Regions from separate parts of the Homo sapiens genome. Here regions 2, 3 and 4 are each reported to be linked to region 1. The links are microRNA targets in miRTarBase. Many come from high-throughput screens and were not tested one by one. Region 1 holds a microRNA gene; each other region holds the end of a gene's coding sequence.
Evidence for each region. The annotated mature microRNA hsa-miR-3928-5p reads UGAAGCUCUAAGGUUCCGCCUGC and lies in region 1 at 3,480-3,502, opposite strand. An mRNA with a match to its seed (bases 2 to 7 or 8) in the 3' UTR can be bound and repressed. Matches are read on the target gene's strand: a 7mer-m8 pairs with bases 2 to 8, a 7mer-A1 pairs with bases 2 to 7 and ends in A, and an 8mer does both.

Region 2: miRTarBase lists ADIPOR2 as a target of hsa-miR-3928-5p. Seed matches in the 3' UTR shown: 7mer-A1 at 2,330-2,336.
Region 3: miRTarBase lists ARSK as a target of hsa-miR-3928-5p. Seed matches in the 3' UTR shown: 7mer-A1 at 3,710-3,716.
Region 4: miRTarBase lists UBR1 as a target of hsa-miR-3928-5p. The part of its 3' UTR that is shown has no 7-base or 8-base seed match.

What each region holds. Positions count from the first base shown.
Region 1 is chr22:31,156,616-31,161,769 of GRCh38, forward strand. MIR3928 (microRNA 3928) reads right to left here and starts at 3,504; the gene lies at 3,447-3,504. It overlaps RNF185 (ring finger protein 185), which reads left to right and starts at 3,567. Exons shown (of 7, transcript NM_152267.4): 1 at 3,567-3,688. It also overlaps the pseudogene SNRPNP2.
Region 2 is chr12:1,785,653-1,790,806 of GRCh38, reverse strand. ADIPOR2 (adiponectin receptor 2) reads right to left here. Exons shown (of 8, transcript NM_024551.3): 8 at 2,133-4,863. The coding sequence ends at 4,735. Among named protein-coding and RNA genes, the nearest start is that of LRTM2, 32 kb to the left of the region's middle.
Region 3 is chr5:95,602,882-95,608,035 of GRCh38, reverse strand. It overlaps ARSK (arylsulfatase family member K), which reads right to left. Exons shown (of 8, transcript NM_198150.3): 8 at 2,934-4,799. The coding sequence ends at 4,510. Among named protein-coding and RNA genes, the nearest start is that of GPR150, 15 kb to the left of the region's middle.
Region 4 is chr15:42,940,997-42,946,150 of GRCh38, forward strand. It overlaps UBR1 (ubiquitin protein ligase E3 component n-recognin 1), which reads right to left. Exons shown (of 47, transcript NM_174916.3): 47 at 1,901-4,474. The coding sequence ends at 4,333. Among named protein-coding and RNA genes, the nearest start is that of TTBK2, 23 kb to the left of the region's middle.

The DNA of each region.
Region 1 (5,154 bases):
CTGCAGCCTTGCTACTCGTGCCCACAGTCGTGATTGCTGCTTCACCAAATCCCGTGTCCACAGTTAAAACTTCGTGCTTCTTAAGACCTGGGGGAAAGCTATAGATAAAGGTATGGTGCAGGTTCTCCCAGAAACAATGCAAGCTGAGGGGGAAACGTGGTGGCTCACGCCTGTAATCCCAACACTTTGGGAGGCTGAGGAGGGCAAATCACCTGAAGTCAGGAGTTCGAGAGCAGCCTGGCCAACATGGTGAAATCCCATCTCTACTAAAAATACAAAAATTAGCTGGGTGGTAGTGGCATGCACCTGTAATCCCAGATACTCAGGAGGCTGAGACAGGAGAATCGCTTGAGCTAGGGAGGCGGAGGTTGAGGTGAGTCAAGATGGCATCACTGTACTCCAATCTGAGTGACAGAGTGAGGTGCTGTCTCAAAAATATATGTATAATTTTTAAAAGTATATTGAAAGCATTGGGTGAGGTGGCTCATGCCTGTAATCCCAACACTTTGGGAGACCAAACTGGGAGGATCCCTTGAGGCCAGGAGTTTGAGACCAGCTTGGGCAACAGCAGGACCCTGTCTCTACAGAAAAATAAAAAATATTAGCTGGGTGTGGTGCGTGCCTGTAGTCACAGTTATTCAGGAGACTGAGGTGGGAGGATCACTTGAGCCCAGGAGTTGAAGCCTGCAGTGAGTTAGGATGGTGTGCCACTGCACTCCAGTCTGGACCACAGGCTGAGACCATGTTTTTTTAAAAAAATAAAAAATAGATAATGGATCGATTGATAGAGAAAGCTCACTCTGTGATGAACCTGTTCCGAGTATCCTCATAACAACTTTTTGAGGAAGGAAGAAATTGGAACACACCTGTGGTTAAACAAGTTGAGTTTATCACTTGTTATGGGGTAAGGGTGAGAGGACATGAATCATGAGAAACAATAGGGCAGCTGGGCTTGGTGGTTCACATCTGTAATCCCAGCACTGTAGAAGCCCAAGGTGGGAGGAACACCTTAGGTCAGGAGTTCGAGACCAGCCTGGCCAACATGGTGAAACCCTGTCCCTACTAAAAATACAAAAATTAGCCGGGAGTGATGGTGGGCGCCTGTAATCCCAGCTACTTGGGAGGCTGAGGCAGAAGAATCACTTGAACCCAGGAGGCAGAGGCTGCAGTGAGCCGAGATCACACCACTGCACTCCAGCCTGAGTGATAGAGTGATACTCTGTCTCAAAAACAAACAAACAAACAAACAAACAAACAAAGGGGCATCTCAGTAACAAAGTGTTACAAAGGACACATAGGATTTGGGCTTGCATTAGGTGATTTGGACGAGGGCTTAAGAAAATGGGGTTTTCTGGATTGGATGCTGCCTATGAGTGAGTACCTTGATAAACATTATTTAGAAGGAGGGAAGAGTAGACCGAGGCTAAATCTATAATCTCTATACAAGCCAGAATAGGGAAATGTTTGGCCATTTTTGTAGTTCGAACAATGCTCATGTTTTGTCTGGGTTTAGACATGATTCAAGTGGTTTTGTTATTGTCTTGATCCATCATGGTCACATAGTGGCTTTGTTTGATGTTGATGTTCTGTGAAGTTTTTATGTTCAATAAGAGAACACACCAAGGTCTATTTGTGAGTGCCAGACCATCTCCTGGATGTCAGGGGCTGTTTTTCTCTTAGCGCTTGGTTTCAAATCCAGGTTTGTGTGACTGGAAACATCCCTTGTATTACTTCTTGATCACAGGAACTTGCAAAGGTGGCTGGCAGACTAGGACTTTCATCTATGAGCTTATTTCATCTACTATTTTTTATTTTTTTTTCTGAGATGGAGTTTCACTCTTGTCGCCCAGGCTGGAGTGCAATGGCACGATCTTGGCTCACTATAACCTCTGTCTCCTGGGTTCAGGCAATTCTCCAGCCTCAGCCTCCCAAGTAGCCGGGATTACAGGTGCCCGCCACCACGCCTGGCTAATTTTTGTATTTTTAGTAGAGATGAGTTTCACCATGTTGGCCAGGCTGGTCTCGAACTCCTAACCTCAGGTGATCTGCCTGCCTCGACCTCCCAAAGTGCTGGTATTATAGGCGTGAGCCACCGCGCCGGCCTTTATCTACTATGTTCACCTCCTACTCAGGTCCGATCCCTAACCGTTCCTGGGATAACTGTAGGTACTTAATAAATGCTTGTTGAATGAATGAAGATGGCTGTCAAGAACTCCAATGACTGCTTGAGTGCAAATCACAAGCTCCATCACCTATCAGTATGTGATTTGATACAATATGTATTAACAGCTAATCCACAATCCATATTCAAATTTCATTACTTGTCCCAATATTGTCCATTACAACTATTCCACCACCACCACTACCCCAGTCCAGGGTCCTATTTAGAATCACACACCACATTTTGTTGTCATGCTTCTTTAGTCTCCTTTAAACTGGAACAGTTCCTCAGCTTTTCTCTGTTTTTCATGACAATGAGTTATTTTGTAGACAGTGTCCTTCATTTGGGGTTCTCTAGCACTTCCTCATGAGATGTGTACGGTGCACTTTTGACAGAAATACCACAGATGTGTTCTCAGTGCATTTTATTAGGAGGCCCTTGATCTGACCCATTAACTAGTGGTGTTAACTTTGATCACTTTGATCTGTTTGTTCTGCTAGGTTAAACCTCTGTAACATCACCATTTTCCCTTTGTAATCAATAGCTAATTTATGGGAGACACTTTTGCTGTTGTAAACATCCCGTTTCTCTAGTTTTACCACACATTATTGATTTCCTAATTCCACCATGTTTATTAGCTAGCATTCTACTAAAAGGAAGACTTTCCCTTCACCCATTAATATGCTCACTTCTTTATGTTTGTAAAGACTCATGGATTACTATTTTATTCAATTAGTTATACTCTATTACTATCACTCCATATTTTGATTCTGAAATTGCCCTGACTTGGCCAGTAAGATCTCCTTAAAGACAGCTCCTGTGTTCTTTGACACATTCCCATGATTCTTATTACCATCATCCTTATATTCTGGTGTAACAAGATGTTCCAAGTTTATCTGGTACTTTCCGGAATGAGTTAGTTCTTTCTCTCTCTCTTTTTTTTTTTTTTTTTTGACGGAGTCTCACTCTGACGCCCAGGCTAGAGTGCAGTGGTGCGATCTCAGCTCACTGCAACCTCCGCCTCCCGGGTTCAAGCGATTATCCTGCCTCAGCCTCCCGAGTAGCTGGGATTACAGGTGTGCGCCACCACGACCGGCTACTTTTTGTATTTTGAGTACAGAGGGGTTTCACCATTTTGGCCAGGCTGGTCTCGAACTCCTGACCTCAAGTGATCCATCCGCCGCGGCCTCCCAAACTGCTGGAATTACAGGTGGGAGCCACCGCGCCCGGCCGGAATCAGTTTTTTTCTTTTAGGAGCCCCGAACCCAAAGCTCTTTGAAAAGCTGCCGAAGCTCCAAGGTTCCTCCGCTTCCTGCCCGCAGGCGGAACCTTAGAGCTTCAGCCATGGAAATTAACCTCTTCCGGTTGGGGCCGGAAGTCCCTCCGAGAGGGGCGGCTCCGCGTCATGTGACTGGAGTCCGCGTAGGAGGGGTCGGAGGTCTTACCCAACAGATTGACGCGGCGTTAGTATTGGCCGTGTACCCGAAAAACTGATTGACTGGGCTGGCGTTAACTGTGCGGAGGCAGGTATGTGAGGGGCTGGGGTTGGGGCGGGGGCGCCAAAGTTTAGGGACGGGGGCGGGAGACCCGGGTCCGCCTTCCCAGGACACACGGGCTTGAACATCTGAGCCCAGGGGCCCAGAGACAGCAAGACCGGTCGTGTCTGTCCCCGAAAAGAGGACGAGCTGGCGTTGTGGTTCTGCGTCCCATGAATACAGATTGGGGAAACTGAGGCCTTGCGAAAGAGAAGGGCTCCCACAAGCTCTCCTTTCGAGGCATGGGCACTGATTCCCATTCTATCCCCCGTGCGAGACCGCCTCTATCATCTGGGAGTGCATTTCACGAGTTTGCCCTGAGTGGAGAAGCAGAGGCCGGGGAGCGCGGTGAACAGAGTTGGGCTGAAAGTAAGAGACCTGGATTCGAGACTTCGCCACCGACAGACAATTGTGCGTTCTGGGCCAAATCTCTTCCCTGTGCTGGGCCTCAGTTTTCTCGTCTCTAAAACGGGGCAGTGTTTTTCAAAATATGGTTCTTACACCATCTGCTTTGTAATTCTCTGAGATGCCGGCTTTACAGCGCGGGACTCAATTCAGACTTCTGGTTTAGAATCTGAACTTATGCGTAGGGGGGTCCTGTATATACTAATGTTTGAAGCTCATTGATTTTAAGTGCTTTCCTGCTGTGAGCACTAGATATCCATTCTTCGCTTTGAGGCAGCTGGTGCCAGTTCAGGAACTTTGAAAGAACTGGAATGGTTAGCTCAGTAAAGAGAGCACTGGAAGGGAATTAACTTTTTAAAAATTGAAAATACTGTTACGGCAAAGAGGGCTTCCACTTCATCTTTAGGCTAAAAGAGGCAGAACTAGGACTAACAGGTGAATTCTACAGGAAGGCAAGATTTTTGCTTAATAGAAGAACTTAAATGGAAGAATCGTCAGAGGTGACCACCGATGGAGTGAATGGATTGCCTCCGTGCCTCCTTTCGAGGGAGGTATATAGGTATTAGATGAAGGTCCTTTCCAACTTGAAAGTCTGTGATTCCAAGGAGTTGTTCTGCATCTTTCTGGTGCTGACTCTGCTCTCAAGGCAAATGTGACTTTTTTCTTCTCTTTTGACACTTCCATCACTTTAGCCTACATCTCCTGTAAATAAGGCCAATGCATCTGACCTTACATAATCTCTTCCTGGTTGTCCTGTGCACCATCCTTCTTTTCAAGGACTTTGGAATGACCCAATATCTGATAGAGGCACCTTAAATGTTTATTGAATGAATAAGTAAACTGGGTCCCACCCCATGGGTTAGTAGCTTTTTTCTAAGAACAAGTTGGAAATGCCTCTGAAGATTTTATGTTTGACCAGGAGAAGCCAGTGAACTCTGAATCACAAAATTGAGGACTCTCAGTTGAAAGCACCCCTTGAGGTTGTTCAGACCAGCCTTCTCTTCCCTGGAACATAATCCCTGCTTGAATCCTCTCTTCAGCAATATGTGTATA
Region 2 (5,154 bases), not on the chromosome of region 1:
ACGGCCACTTGCCCATGCTACATGGCAAATGGCACAACTGAGATCTGAAGCTACCCTTTTCATTTCCAGGTAGTGTAGCAGGGTAGGGACGGTGGGACAGTAGGATGGCGGTGACAAGAGGCCATCGCACGTGACGCTTCCTTCCTGCCCCATGCCATCATAAGCAGCCTCTACATGAGTGAGACAGGCTGCCCTTGTTTCACCAAGTCAAACAGCTGAAGGCAGAAAAGATTTGTACATTAGATAGGGTGTTGGTGGTGGGTAGGGAGCAGTGCTGGCTAGCAAATGGTTCATGCCCTCTGAGGGGAAGACAAAATGAAACACTACAATTGAAGCCAAATATTCAAGAAGATGTTGTTTCTGGGATGATTTTAAAGTAACATTGCCCAGAGGGTTCTCTAGGCACCCAGAGCCTAGCACGCTGTACAGTCAGAATCCAAACTTGTCCTTATCTACTTCCTCTACAACCACATAACATCACCTGGGTATCAGGAACCATACAGACACTTTTTTTTTTTTTGGGAGATGGAGTCTCGCTCTGTCACCCAGGCTGGAGTGCAGTGGTATGGTCTCAGCTCACTGCAACCTCCACCTCCCAGGTTCAAGCGAGTCTCCTGCCTCAGCCTCCCAAGTAGCTGGATTACAGGTGCCTCCACCACACCCAGCTAATTTTTTGTATTTATAGTAGAGACGGGGTTTCACCATTTTGGCCAAGGTGGTCTCGAACTCCTGACCTTGTGATCCGCCCACCTCGGCCTTCCAAAGTGCTGGCATTACAGGCGTCAGCCACCATGCCCGGCTCAGATGCCTTTTGGGAAGAGACGAGGAAAAGACAAGTGGGTTATTAGTAGGCTTCAGCTAATACTGTTTGTCAAAAGCAGGGAATGATCCAATGTCTATGCCCAGGTAAGGTATGGGACACTCTAAAGTTAAATCTATACTTAAAAATGAGAATTCAGAATGAACATATTATCCTGATACTGGAAATGCCCTTCCAAAAACTAAATTTACCTAAGGCAAAAGGGTTGGAATTCCGTTTTTTTTTTTTTTATTTCAAACACCAACTCGAACCAGATCCTCTTCTTATATAGAAGGGACTAGGTTAATGAACCCCAAAACCTTTAAGTCAATGTATATGACACTGTTTAATCAGAATAACAAATACAGAAAGGTTTTCTTAAATTTTCTCTTCACTCTTTTCTCCAATACAGTGCTGGCACTAGAGTCATTCTTAAACTTCCTAAGCTTCAGTTTCCCCATCTATAAAATGAGAGTGAAAATACTCCTGAATGGCTCAGAGGGTTGTGATTATGATCATATGACATCGACAGTTCTCTAACACATCCCTTGGCATCAAGTGTTACATTAGAGACTATTTTTTTTTTTCTCAGACAACATGACTTTATTACTGGAAACCAACTAAGAAAAAATTATGATTAGGAGGAGAAAACAGCAAATGGTCGGGGTAAAAAACCAATATTCAGCAATCAGTAGCTTTCACCAATCAAAAGAACTTTTAGAAGATATAATTGAAGACAAAATCCTATTTATAATAGCAAACAACAGCAAAAGCAAGGAATGAACTTAGTCAATGTGCACTGCCTGTAGGAGATGGCCTCGTGATCCGCCCGCCTTGGCCTCCCAAAGTGCTGGGATTACAGGAGTGAGCCACCGTGCCCAAAAAAATAAATTTTGTAATGTTTCACTTAACAAAAGAGATACATTCTGAGAAATGTATCATTAAGTGATTTCATAATTAGTTGATTTCGTTGTCACGCAAACATCATAGAATGCACTTACACAAACCTAGATGGTACAGCCTACTACACACCCAGGCTTTATGGTAGAGCCTATTGCCCTTGGCATTAGAGACTATTTTTATAAACTTCAATAATAAATAAGAACTGCCCCTTAGAGCTGCTCTCCCCTCCATTCTAAACCTGGTGCAACTTACGAGGAAAGCTTGAGTTAGGAAACAGGAGTTGGGCATAAGCACTTTGATTTCTGCATCCCGAAGGGGAAGTTTCCAAAAATTTCTTAAATCACAGTGTCTAAATTAGAGCTTCAGAGAAGTGCCAAAAGCCAAGGGGAGGTAAGCTGAACGGCAATAAAAAAACACACGACAGGTCATATTTCATTTGGTTCTTTTTATTAGAAACTGAGAATACAGCAAGTAGGGAAATCCCACATCAATGGAACCATCACACAGATGCCTTTCTGGAACCCCAACCTTCTATGATCCCCAAAAATGTGCTTTGTGGCTTTAGCATAATTTATAAAGGGGAAGAGGGAAAATACTGAAAAAGGCCACTATTTAATGGTGAAAGAATGAAGCTGTAGAGGTCCCAACCAGCCTAGGGCCAAAAAAGAAAATTAAAAATCTGCACAGAGCAAGCAAGCCTCTGACTGCTGAGAGTAAGGCATTCAGGCGCCAACCTGGTGAGAGTTCTCAGCGAGCACTGTCAGGTCAAGTGCACATGAGGCTGTTGGTAGTGAGCTGCACGTAGACACACACATAGAAATGGGCACATGCCCACATACACACCCGAAAAAGGGAGATTTTACTGGATTACACATCAGTGATGTTAATTTCATTTTTCCTAAGGGTTTGTGCTATGTTGAACCAGATCCTTCCAGCTTTGGGGTGTGGGTGACTGCACCCAGAGGCTGCTACTTCTGTTGGTGTTGTGACAGGGCTGCACCTATACGCTGTATCCCAAAGTGCATGACCGAAGAGCAAGTCTGGCTTCTGATACGTGCTGTTGCTCCCAAGAAACTAAGTGGGCTTCTGTCCAAATGGCCACTGTCCTGCTGGACTATGCTTTCTCAAAGGGATTAATACTGTTCTTTATTCTGTCAGGCACTGCACCAGTTCATCCACTGAGTCTTTTGCTCGGTCCACCTAGCACCTAGGACAGTGACCTTATCCAGAACCAAAACGTTCAAGTTCTTCTCAACTTCTACACTGGATTCTTTCTTCCTAGATCCCACCTTTTGCTGGAGATTGCAAGGGCAAGGGAGGAAAATAACTGAGAAAACTCTATTGAATAAATAGGAGACCCTTCCCATATTCCCAAACACCTACTGAGGACGCCAGTCCCCATGCTCAGGACCTCCATATTTAGTTCTAATACCCACAACCCCAGGATATAATGGAGTCATCCCAAGTCTTTGATGACAGTAACCTAAGACTCGAGCACTATTTTGGTGGTTCACCTATGGGCCAAGATCAGAATTCCATGAACCAGATCCTTTCCCCACCACTTTCTCTGACACCGTATCAGGTAGGCCTGTGACATGAGCCATCGTCTTGTACCTCACTCCCTGGCAATAACATACCATTGTATTTAAAATGCCACACCACTCTTATCCCTGTAAAGTGAGGTTCAGTGAGTGCTGACAACTCCGTACTACAACTGGCTTTAAGAGTTCTGCTGGCTTTCTTATTCAAGGAGAGCCGAGGTGTCTGTCACATCCAGGCTTACCAAGACAGTGTACCAGAGGTAAAACTCATCTTTCCTAATCCAAAGGAAGGGTCTACCAATCTATGTAGATGAGCTCAGGAGAAACCTGGACACGTCAGAATCTCATTTGTGGCTGGCTCCCATGCCAAGAACTATGTCAGAGAAAGGTCCATTTCTATTCCCTCAAGGAGGAAGTGTAGTTAGGGCAGTGATTTTTAATAGAGGGAAATTTAGAGAGTGTTCCAGAGCTCCACAGCAAGGATATGGAAAACTGTCCCATCCCTCTAATAAGACTTCCCATAAAAGTGAGCGGGATGCCAGGAAGTAATCAGATCAGCCCATGCTAATGTTTCTAGAGCTCCTCCATGGCCTCCAGCACCCCTTTACCAGCTGCTAGGAGTGTGTCAGTCTCTCAAATGACAATGACACCCTAACTAGAGCCTTTATCTAACATCCTGTCACCCACTCATGTGCTGCTTCCACTGAGAAAACACATACCACTCCCCTCTACCTCAGGCCTCCCAAAGGGAGTGGTCATGTCACCACTGGGCTAGGGCTATACTCTCTGCCCCATTAGGGTCCAAGGTATGTCAGCCTTTAGAAGGCATCTTGGTGCACCAAGACACTGTACATTCCGGGGCTATCACCTGATCCTACAGTCACTTTTTGTGCAAAATTCAAACAGTGTGTGGTACTTGCATGTTTCATTCTATACAAAAATTCTCCCTCCCTCCCTTACCCCTATGTTTTAAACATTTATATAAAGTCTTATTTAAACAGTTAGAAATCTTATTTACATTAATTTCTTTGTTCTCCCAAAAGAGCATTTAAAATCACACTCCCACCCCTTATCGGATATAAATGTTCACTTAAATTGGTTTGTATTATTGTCATAGAGAGAGAGAAAGGGAGAAGAAAGAACCACCAGCTAAACTGTTTCGCCATCTTCTACAAATAAATATGATATGGATCAGAAGCCAGTTTGCCAAGGGTCTTGCAGAGCCCGCAATCAGTAGATCCCAAGAATAAGCCAGGGTTTGGGCTATGTCTCCTTTTCTCCCAATTGATGCACTCCATCCTTTGAGGTATGATTTATTTTTGTTTTTCTCTTCTCAGTCATGTACCACGCAGAGCCACTGGGCCGTCACAAAGCCCACGAGGCTGTCAAAGTTTTGGGGCTCCTCTGGTACTGGCATCAGTAGCCAGCAGGGAGGCCCGCAAGTGCCGCAGGCCCTGGTTTAGGGTCATAGTCCCTGGAGACTGGTAGGTATCACAGTGCATCCTCTTCACTGCAGCCCCCGCCGATCATGAAACGAAACTCCTGGAGGTTTGAGACACCATGGAAGTGAACAAAAGCTCCAGCAACCACAAAGATATGAAACAGCTGATGAGAGTGAAACTGGAGGGGAAAAAAGAAGAGAAGGGGGTAGAGAAACCCATACATTATTAAGACTGCTAAAGATTCTTAGGATCGTTTAATCCTGGTTTATGCTGAGCAGAAGGCAGGGAATGGATGTGACAGAGCTCAAATTCAAGGCGTCCACAGATCCTGGAACATCCATTAGGTGTAACACATTCTGCTGAGCTGAAAGCCAGCTGTTCCCAAAGAAACCAAGGTGCTGCCACTAAGCTCTACACATAAAAATCTACAAACTTAACACTGAAACCAGTGGCAAATGACACACAGACT
Region 3 (5,154 bases), not on the chromosome of region 1:
ATTTACTAAGCTTCTACTATGTGTTAGGCATTTGAGATACTTTATGGAGAAAAGGGACAAAACGCCATGCCTGGTTGGAGCTTTTATTCTAGTACCGTCAGAAAGGGTAAAAGACAGCTCAAACACATTAATTATGTAAGACACACACTAAATTAAATGGTAATAATTTCTATGGAGAAAAATAAAGCAGGAAAGTCCTTGTGCGATGGTGACATTTGAGCCATGACCTCAAGGAAATAACAGTGAGCCATGAAAAAATCTGAAGGAAGAACTGCACTCTAGGCAGAAAAAATTGACAAGCGCAAAGAGGTCTTGGTGGTGCATGCCTGGTGTGTCTGTCTGGAAAGCAACAGGGATGCATGTGGCTGGAGCACAGTAAATCAGGTAGGAGTATAGGAGGAGAAGCGGTCTTAGAGAGAACATGCTACCAGATTATTTGGGGCCCACAGGCTATTGTAATGACTCTGGCTTTTACAGAAAAAGATGGGAAACCAGTGGGAGCTTTGAGTATCCAGGGGTGTGATCTGTATTTTGACAGGCTCACTCTGGCTGCTGTTGAGAACAGACTGAAGGAAGCCAAGGACAGATTCATGGAGACCTCTTAAGAGTCAACAGCAAAATTCCAAGCACAGATCATGGTGGATTAGAACAAGAAGTTAGTAGTGGAGGTAGTAAAAATGGAAGCCCAAAGGTTATTCTCATTCCAGCTTCTAATTAGTGTCAGTTCCTCTCAGATTCTGGCATTAGATAATTGTCTTGATTTTGTGCGTTTTTCTTAATTTTCGGTTTTCATGATTGTTAGATACCATTCTGAATTAGATATTGTCCTGAATATTCAACTGTACCTAATTATGATCCTGTACTTAATATGCTTAAAACATGGCAGATGCTTGGTAAATTCTTACAATGAATGTGTATCTTAAAGGGTTTGGGTAGAATGAAGTAGATTTATCTTCACAAGCCTATTTTCAGGACCACATTTCTATTGTTATTGCTTTTCTCTCTATGATTAGCATATATACCCATACTTTAGCTACTTGTGTTCTTTAGGCTTATTTAGGAGATGGATGGTGGATTTGTATAGTTTAATTTTAACCTTAATACTCAGTCTTTCTTTTTAAGGGTTTCACTTCAGAATATGTGTGTTTGTGTATGCATGTGTATATACATATGTAATAAAAATCAGATATATTCAAAAGTAAAATCATTTCTCAGAAATTCATAATTGCAAAGGTAAGCTCATATAAATTCACTGAAGAACGATAAACAAATAAATAAAGGAGATGAACTTACTCATGAAGAAAACTTCAAAGACAGTTTGAAGAAGTATTAAGTTGGGTAAAATTATTTGCAGGTAAGATTTTTACTTGGAAAATAATATATCACTTGAAAAACTATTACTCACTATGAAGTGATTCAGCATAAAATAAATATATGGAAATGGAGTGCACATATAAACAAGAAGATCTTCTCTTAGAGGATATAATGGAAGGAAGATTCACTTAAAATCACAATAACTGATAAAACAACTGGAAATAAACCCACCTCTGGCTACATATTAGAATCATGGCTGGAGGGATTGACCAGCAAGACAACAATAATAGCACAGCAGGCCCAGGCTGTCTCAGAAGCTCTAATCAAGTGGTGTAGTGTAGAGCCTAGGGGGGTATTTTTTAAAGTCTCTGCTTTTCAAAAATTTTTCCGGACAAATTGATCTATATGAAGAAAACTTAGACTACTACTGAGGGATATAAAAGAAGACTTGAATAAAGGGAAAAACATGCTAATTATTTAGAATAACTATCATAAAGAATTAAATTCTCTCTAAAGTAGGTTATACATTTAATGATTTCATTTAAAAGCCAACAGGACTTTTCATTTTTGTTACTACACAAACTTATTCTAAATTTGTATGGAAAAATCAAGAGTTGCTAGGAAGGACAATTCTGAAAAAAGAAAACTATTGCAAAGGGACTAGTCCTACCAGATACTGTCTACCAGACTAATAAAATAGACTGGTCTGGCTGGGTGTGGTGGCTCATGCCTGTAATCCCAGCACTTTGCGAGGCTGAGACAGTCAGGTTGCTTGAGTGCAGGACTTTAAGACCAGTCTGGGCAATGCAGTGAAACCCTGTCTCTATAAAAATTTAAAAAATTAGCTGAGTTTTGTGGCGCGTGCCTGCGGTCCCAGCTACTAGGGAGGCTGAGGTGCGAGGATCACCTGAGCCTATGAGATTGAGGCTGCAGTGAGCAGTGATTGTGCCACTGCACTCCAGCCTGAGTGACAAGGGAAGACCCTGTCTCAAAAAAACAAAAAACAAAACAGAAACAAAGAAAATAGAATGGTCCAGTGGAAAATAAAATGTTCAGAAATGGCATAAGTATAAATGGGACTTTGGTATAGATAAAAATGGCATCGCAAATCAATGGAGGAAAAGATAATGTACTCAACCAAAGGTATTATATGATGAAGTGACATTTTTACGAATGGGAGAAGAGACAGTTTACTCAATAAAAGATCAATGGGTAGGCATATTTAAAAAAACAACCAAAGTTAGATTTCTAATATGTTTAATACATTCCAGCTGGGTCAAAGATCCAAAGGTGAAAAATAAAATTATAAAAGAAGACAAGTGGAGGCCAGGCGCAGTGGCTCACGCCTGTAATCCCAGCACTTTGGGAGGCCTAGGTGGGCAGATCACCAGGTCAGGAGATCAAGACCATCCTGGCTAACACGGTGAAACCCCATCTCTACTAAAAATACAAAAAATTAGCTGGGTGTGGTGGCGGGTGCCTGTAATCCAGCTACTTGGGAGGCTGAGGCAGGAGAATCACTTGAAACCGGGATTGCACCATTGCACTCCAGTCTGGGTGACAGAGCGAGACTCCGTCTCAAAAAAAAAAATGACAAGTGGAGAAGGCCATTCTAAATATGATACAAAATCCCAAAAGCCACAAAAGCAAAGATCTGTAAATTTTGTACTAATATTTTTAATTGACAAATCATAATTGTATATACTTATGGTGTACAAAGATTCATAAATTTGCTTACATGAAAATAAAAATTTCTACATATCAAAAAATACCAGAACAAAGTCAAAAGACAAATGACAATGACAAACTGGAAAGAAGATATTTGCAGGATCTCTTACAAAAAGCTAATATCTAAAGCACACCTGTAATACAAAACAAAGACCAACAACCAACAGAAAAATAGGCAAAGAATAGAAATAGGAAAGGCCATGGTAAAGCAGATTCCAGTGGCTGTTAAATACATGAAAATATGCTCTACGTTACTCATAAAAAGAAAAATAAAAATAGAACATTTTTATCTGTTAGGTTGGCAAAGGATAAGAAGACATGCATTGATGGTGAGATTATCAGTTAGTATACCTTCTTTAGAGGTAATTTGTAGTATCTAGTGTAATTTTGCTAAATATAGTCTTGACTCAGTAATTTCACCTCTAGATATCTACTGTTAAGTGAAAAAAAAAAGGAAAAAGAAGCAACATGCAGAACAATGTGTGCAGTATGTTACCGTTTGTGTAGGGGGAAAGGAATATATACATTTGTTTATAAATTTGTGGCCAATCTCTAAAAATGCGTAAGCAGGTGGTTTCGGTACTTGCTTCTTGGAGGGGGAACTGGATGGCAGGGAAGAGGGAAAGGACAGAGACTTCACGATCACTGTTAACCCTTTTGTACCATTTGAAGCTTTTACCCTGTATATATATTACCTATTAAAATAAAACAGTAACAAAATCAGGTACATCCAGGGTTTACATCCCGTTAAATACTCCAAATACTCCCATTAAATACATCCAAACAATCCCATCAAATACAAGTAACTCATCGAGCACCATCAAATGCTCACATACAACTATTTTATGATACATATTATTACAATATTTTATATTCTCTATTATTTAAAGGAACATAACTGTTACAGTATTTGCTTCAATTCTTTTGATACTTCCACTAAATTGTTAGAAATTGTACAAAGGCCTAAATAATAACCATTTTTGAAAATATGTGATTTTATAATCATTGGCATTTTATCTTAAAATACACTACATTCTTACAAAATAATGAAAAATTGGTAATTATTATTATTTTATTTTTATTTTTTTGCGACACAGTCTCACTCTGTTGCCAGGCTGGAGTACAGTGGCGCAATCTCAGCTCACTGCAACTGCTGCCTCCCGGGTTCAAGCGATCCTCCTGCCTCAGCCTCTGAGTAGCTGAGACTATAGGTGTGCACCACCGCGCCCAGCTAATTTTTGTATTTTTAGTAGAGACAGGGTTTCACCATGTTGGCCAGGATGGTCTCAATCTCTTGACCTTGTGATCTGCTTTCCTCAGCCTCCCAAAGTCCTGGGATTACAGGTGTGAGCCACTGTGCCCGGCCAAAACTTGGTAATTATTAAAACTGTTTCATTTAAAATACATAATTATGATCTTGTAATATATTTATATGTATCTCTAGAACACTATTTTTAAACTTTTTGTTCAAACTGCTCTTGGATTCATATGGGTTTTAAGCCACTGATCAATTGCATTTTCATACTTCCTTGGTTCCTTCTGCCAGTCTTGGTGCCACCTAAGATTTGCTATAACGTTTGAATAATTCTGTCCTATACTTTGTTTCCACTTGATAAACTGCTCTTTATTATACTGGTGGACAGAAGCAGAAACTTTAGGGTAGTTTATAATGGAATGAAGCTTCTGATCCAAAGAATAAGTAATTTCTGGAAATTTTACAGCAACATTTGTTAATTCATCTGGATCCGAGGAAAGATCTGAAAGAAAAAAAATAAGTATCTGTCAAAATAGTGACCTGCTAAAAATTTTTTTAGAATGTCATTATGACAGGTAATGTATTAGATTTTTTTTTTAGATTTTCAGTTCCTGTTAGTGTAGTAAAATGAAGGACAGTATAAATGGTAAAATAACATACCAGGAGTTAAACACCCTATGTTGCATGCCCAAATTCCCTCCTTCCTACCATTGTCCAGCTATCCCACTTTTTTTTTCTTTTCTTAAATGCCAGAAAAAGTCAAACTTTTATCATTAGTAAGCTGGTTTAGAACAAGTTCTTCCTGTTTTTGATGTCCTGCCTACTTTGACAGGCAGAAATGAATACAGTAATGCTTA
Region 4 (5,154 bases), not on the chromosome of region 1:
CTGTCACACAGGCTGGAGGGCAGTGGTGTGATGTCAGCTCACTGCAACCTTGACCTCCTTCTCAAGGGATCTTGCCACCTCCGCTTCCCAAGTAGCTGGGACTACAGGTGCGCCACAATGCCCAGGTCTTTCCAGCTTTTCCTTACTGTGCATTCCATTGGTAACTTTTCATTTTTGTCTTCCTTCTTAGTCTTCATTTCTATTTTTTCCCCAAATTTCGCTTGACTGATCTGGGTGACAGAGCGAGACTCCGACTCAAAACAAAAAACAGACAAAAACCGTTCTTTGCCTTCAGTGTTGCCCCTCACAGAATTTTTTTTTTTTTTTTTTTTTTTTTTTTTTTTTTTTTTGAGATGGAGTCTCACTCTGTTGCCAGGCTGGAGTGCAGTGGCACAATCTCAGCTCACTGCAATCTCCACCTCCCACATTCAAGTGACTCTCCCACCTCAGCCTCCTGAGTAGCTGGGACTACAGGTGCGCACCACCATGCCCAGCTAATTTTTGTATTTTTGGTACAGACAGGGTTTCACCATGTTGGCCAGGATGGTCTTGATCTCTTGACCTCGTGATCCGCCCGCCTCAGCCTCCCAAAGTGCTGGAATTATAGGCATGAGTCACCGTGCCTGGCCCCCTCATAGAATATTTTAAAGCTTAAAACTAAAGCAATTGCATCTAACCTTTTAAAAATTCCAGGTACCCTTTTCTCAAATGAAAGCTTACACAGAAACTCAAAATGAAAAATCACAACTATCCAGCTTTGGCACTCTTTCCCCTCTCGGGCCTACGTTTCTCCCAGAATCTTTGGCACTTAGTCTGAAAATCACCAAGCTAAAAAGAAAGCAAACTCTTCATTTTATGAAGAGTCATGGCTCAGAAATGGAAGAAAACCACCCTGCTTATTTTAAGGCTCAATCCCACAAGATTGATTCCAGATCGAGGGTGAGAACTGGGCATTTGTATTTTGTTAATACTCTCTAGGTGACTGTAATGCACAGTTAAGTTTGAGAACCATCACACTAGATGTATACTGCCCAATATGGTAGCCACCAGCCACACATGACTACATTTAAATTAACTAAAAATTAAAAATTCAGGCCCTCAGTTGCACTAGCCACATCACAAGTGTTCAACAGCCACATGAGAATAGTGACTGCCATTCCATATGGTAAATACACACAGAACATTTTTTTTTTCTTTGAGACAGAGTCTCACTCTCTCACCCAGGCTGGAGTACAATGGTGTGATCTCGGCTCACTGCAAGCTCCGCCTCCTGGGTTCACGCCATTCTCCTGCCTCAGCCACCTGAGTAGCTGGGACTACAGATGCCCGCCACCAAGCCTGGCTAATTTTTTGTATTTTTAGTAGACACGGGGTTTCACCGTGTTAGCCAGGATGGTCTTGATCTCCTGACCTCGTGATCCCCCCACTTTGGCCTCCCAAAGTCATGCGATTACAGGCTTGAGCCACTGCGCCCGGCCAGAACATTCCTATTATTGCAAAACTCTTCTGGATACTGCTGCTCTAGACAGCTGTCTCCATATTAGAGCGTGCATACCCAAAAGGATGCAGATTGGATTGGAAGATATTTAAATATCTATTTCTATTTTTAACTGATTTTTAAATCTCCTTTTAAAGCTATGTTTTATAATTTGCATGATGTATTAGTAAAGCACTGCATATAGAATATAAAATATGTGTTATGTGTTTATATTCTATTTGGTATGCATGCTAAAAACTATTTATTGATGGAGTATATGGCTAAAAAGTTTGGAGACCCATGTATACTAAACACCTATGTCTTTTAAAACATTTGCCTCGGCTGACAAAGGTTTCAACTGGAGAGTCTTCCTAGCAGATTTTTATACTTCAAACCCAAATCCCCAAACATGAGAAGTCCCTATTTTTCTTTTTAAATATACACATATATTTTATTTTAAAAAGCACAAGAACATTATACAAGTTTTAAATTTACATTTTTGCAATAAAAGTTATCAATATATGCATTATTTGTATAACTTCATCATGGATGGAATTTGAATCAGTGGTATAAACATGTTGCAGTCACTAAATATAGATCATCATCACAGTGAACCAAAATGCATAGTTGTTATGAAATGACAAATGACCACTAAAAGGTGAACTCACAGCCCATACACCAATATAATAAATTAATTATACAGATATATTTTTCTTCACCATATCATTAAAATTCTCACTAGCCCCTTACCAAACATTAGAAAAACACAGTTCTGGAGCCATCCTGTTGAACCAGTGCCTTCACATACTACACTAAAGAAAATAAAGTGACTCAGTTGCTTGTTTGTAAGTAAACTTCATAAGCATAATTGTTTGCAATGATTAAGGTAAATCACTAGGACATTTGAACATAATGAGAAATCCCTGGGGCTTGGGGCAGCACTGAGACATACGCTCATCTACAGTGCAAAAATCTGAATCAATCTCAATCAGTGGAACGCAATATGAAATGGGTTCTTTGGCAGTAAAGGTCTGGCTGGCCATTGCCAGACAGTCCCTCTGTCCTCTTGAGAGCCTAACTCCAGAATTTATTAAGTTAATATAAAAAGGACTAAAAATAAAGTCAGTTTATCTTTGCTAAATTGGGGCCCATCTATTAGGGTAGAAGTCAGTATCTTCTGTTTCCTATTCTAGCCCAGATTTCCCAGTCAAACAATCCACTCAATACAATTATATAAGAAACAAACACACATGTTCAAATACTTTCATCATTCTGGCAAATCTGACAAACTGAATACTGAATTTCCTGATCCTTACCTGTTATTGTTACAAATTGTTCACTAGACATGTATCTATTTATCCAGATACCTTCTGAATTGTAATTATTCAAGTAGAAAATCATGATTGTGATTCTGACGCCTGCTCATGCCAATCCCTTACTGCAAAATCCACTTTTCTTTACATAAAAGTACCAAAAAAATCTAGCCCCAAATGTGCATCACTAATCACTTAGCAAATATATTTTACTTGCTTGCCTTTGCTGAGCAAAAAGAAGGTAGGAAAACATTTACACACATATGTGAGACACTAATAGCCAAGGGCAAAATAAGATACAGTCTTTGAATGCATCTTTCAAGGTTCTAACATTACCCCAGAAACAACGTAAGTTAAAATGGAAGGTTTCCATTTATCTTCTGCTGTTTTATATCACAATCTCTTGATACAAAAAACAAAAGCCAGGAACCAAGAAGTCTATGCACAAATTCAGGAGAGCTCTATTATTTATAAACAAGATGGCTCAACCACAGCATGTTATAACAGGACACAGACTATTGATCACATGGCTTTTTTGGTGGTTTGTACTAGTCATAAAACCAGAGTTTATGAAAAGGTTGCACACAGACAACATCAAGGATTTGTCTTTTACAAAGATATAGAAGACTGCGGAATTGGTTTAAATCTGATTGTTCTAATTTACAGTTGTCATGATCCACTCATTGCGAGAATTTTCTCATCTTCATTCTACAGTTTTTACATCAGAATTACAAGAGGTTTCTGAGAGTCAAACAGGATGGTGCCACAATCTCCTTGCAGAATGAGATTTGCCTTTGGAAAATGTCAAGTATTATTTCAAAACTCAACAAAGCTACTGGTAGTCAGAGGTGAGAACTGCAAGCTCTTTGTACCGTCAGGAATGAATAACAAATACATTACCCTAACTTTTCTTGAGGCCTACAGTGAGAAAAAAGCTTTTCCATATTGGCAGAAATCATCCTCTGTCCACATAGAGATTGAGTTTAATTTGTGGTGATAGCAGCAGGTGGCACATTAGGGGTATTTCCTTAAAAGAGAAATAATAAAAAATTTATTTTTGGAATCTTTCCCAAGTATATTGCATGGTTTCTGCAATTCTTCTTTAACTGCAAGGAAGACTATCACAGATTATTAGAATTTTGTCAGTGATCCAATGTCAGTTGAACTAAACTTGGGGGGAAAACACCAAATACAAAATTGCAGAAGAGTTAACCAACATATAAAATGTCTACAACTGTTTGACGTGACTTCATCTACCAAGTGGATGAAATAAAATGAAATGAGACAAATTATGAAGGGGAATAAATTCCTGGAAATACTAGCACATAAAACAGATTGATCTATGTCCTTTTTTCCTGTGAAGCATATGTTTGCTAATTGAAAGCAATACTCCATTAAGAAATATTTTATTGATGTAAGTGAACCTGGACATGGAGCAAAAGACCCTCCAATACTTTCCCAGCCCTCAGAAAGTTTTCCATAATTTTGAATCAGCCTTTACTACTGTCGTCATTTGTGATTGTCTTGAGGCAGAGTTGGAGCTCACAGTAACTGCCAGTTGAATCCAAATAACATCTGATTAGTCTCTTGGCTCCTAGCAATCTCTTCTATAATGCAGTGTTGTTGCCAGACCAAATGGAGCTTCCGATACCGCTCACGAGATAAATGAAGGGGGTTGCCCCTCCTTTAGGGAAAAAAGAAAAAACAACATGTAAGTTTGAATCTAGTAACTGCCACATCTTTATTGTCTAAATTAGTATGCACTCTTGAGATGTTCCTGGAGCCGGGAGGACTCACCAGCACAGGGCTTAAAAAGGGATATTTTCCCTTCACCATTGATCACTAAGAACTTGACAGGCTACTTAGCTAATAAAGCAGAAATGTACTCCTTGACCATTCATAAAATAGGTCAGGTATATTATGGCATTATGGGACCTCACTTAAATGGTCACTGAGGTTTATAACTTGAAGCAGCACTATTCTTTTTTGGTGGTTAGCTTGAATAGCTTTTTGGCTTCATATTGTTATCTAGCTTCAATTTATGATCTTTGCACAGTAGAGGTTAGGCCTGACGTATAACACTAGGCCCTAAAATTATATTTTGCTACTCAGAGATATTTGGTTGTAACTGTCCTTACGATACAAAAAACTGGCTGGTTATTAGCAAATAATTTAATAAAATAATTATACTTCAATTCTAGAGTTGCACAGTTTTTAACACTGTATAACAGCTAATCCAAAATGACTTAAGTCTGGCTGTTGCCAGTAACGGAGAACTGTGAGATCCTAATTCCTTGAGACATTCAAGTCTCTCAGCTGGTTGGGGATTTTTTTTGTTTTTGTTTTTGTTTTTTGGAGATGGAG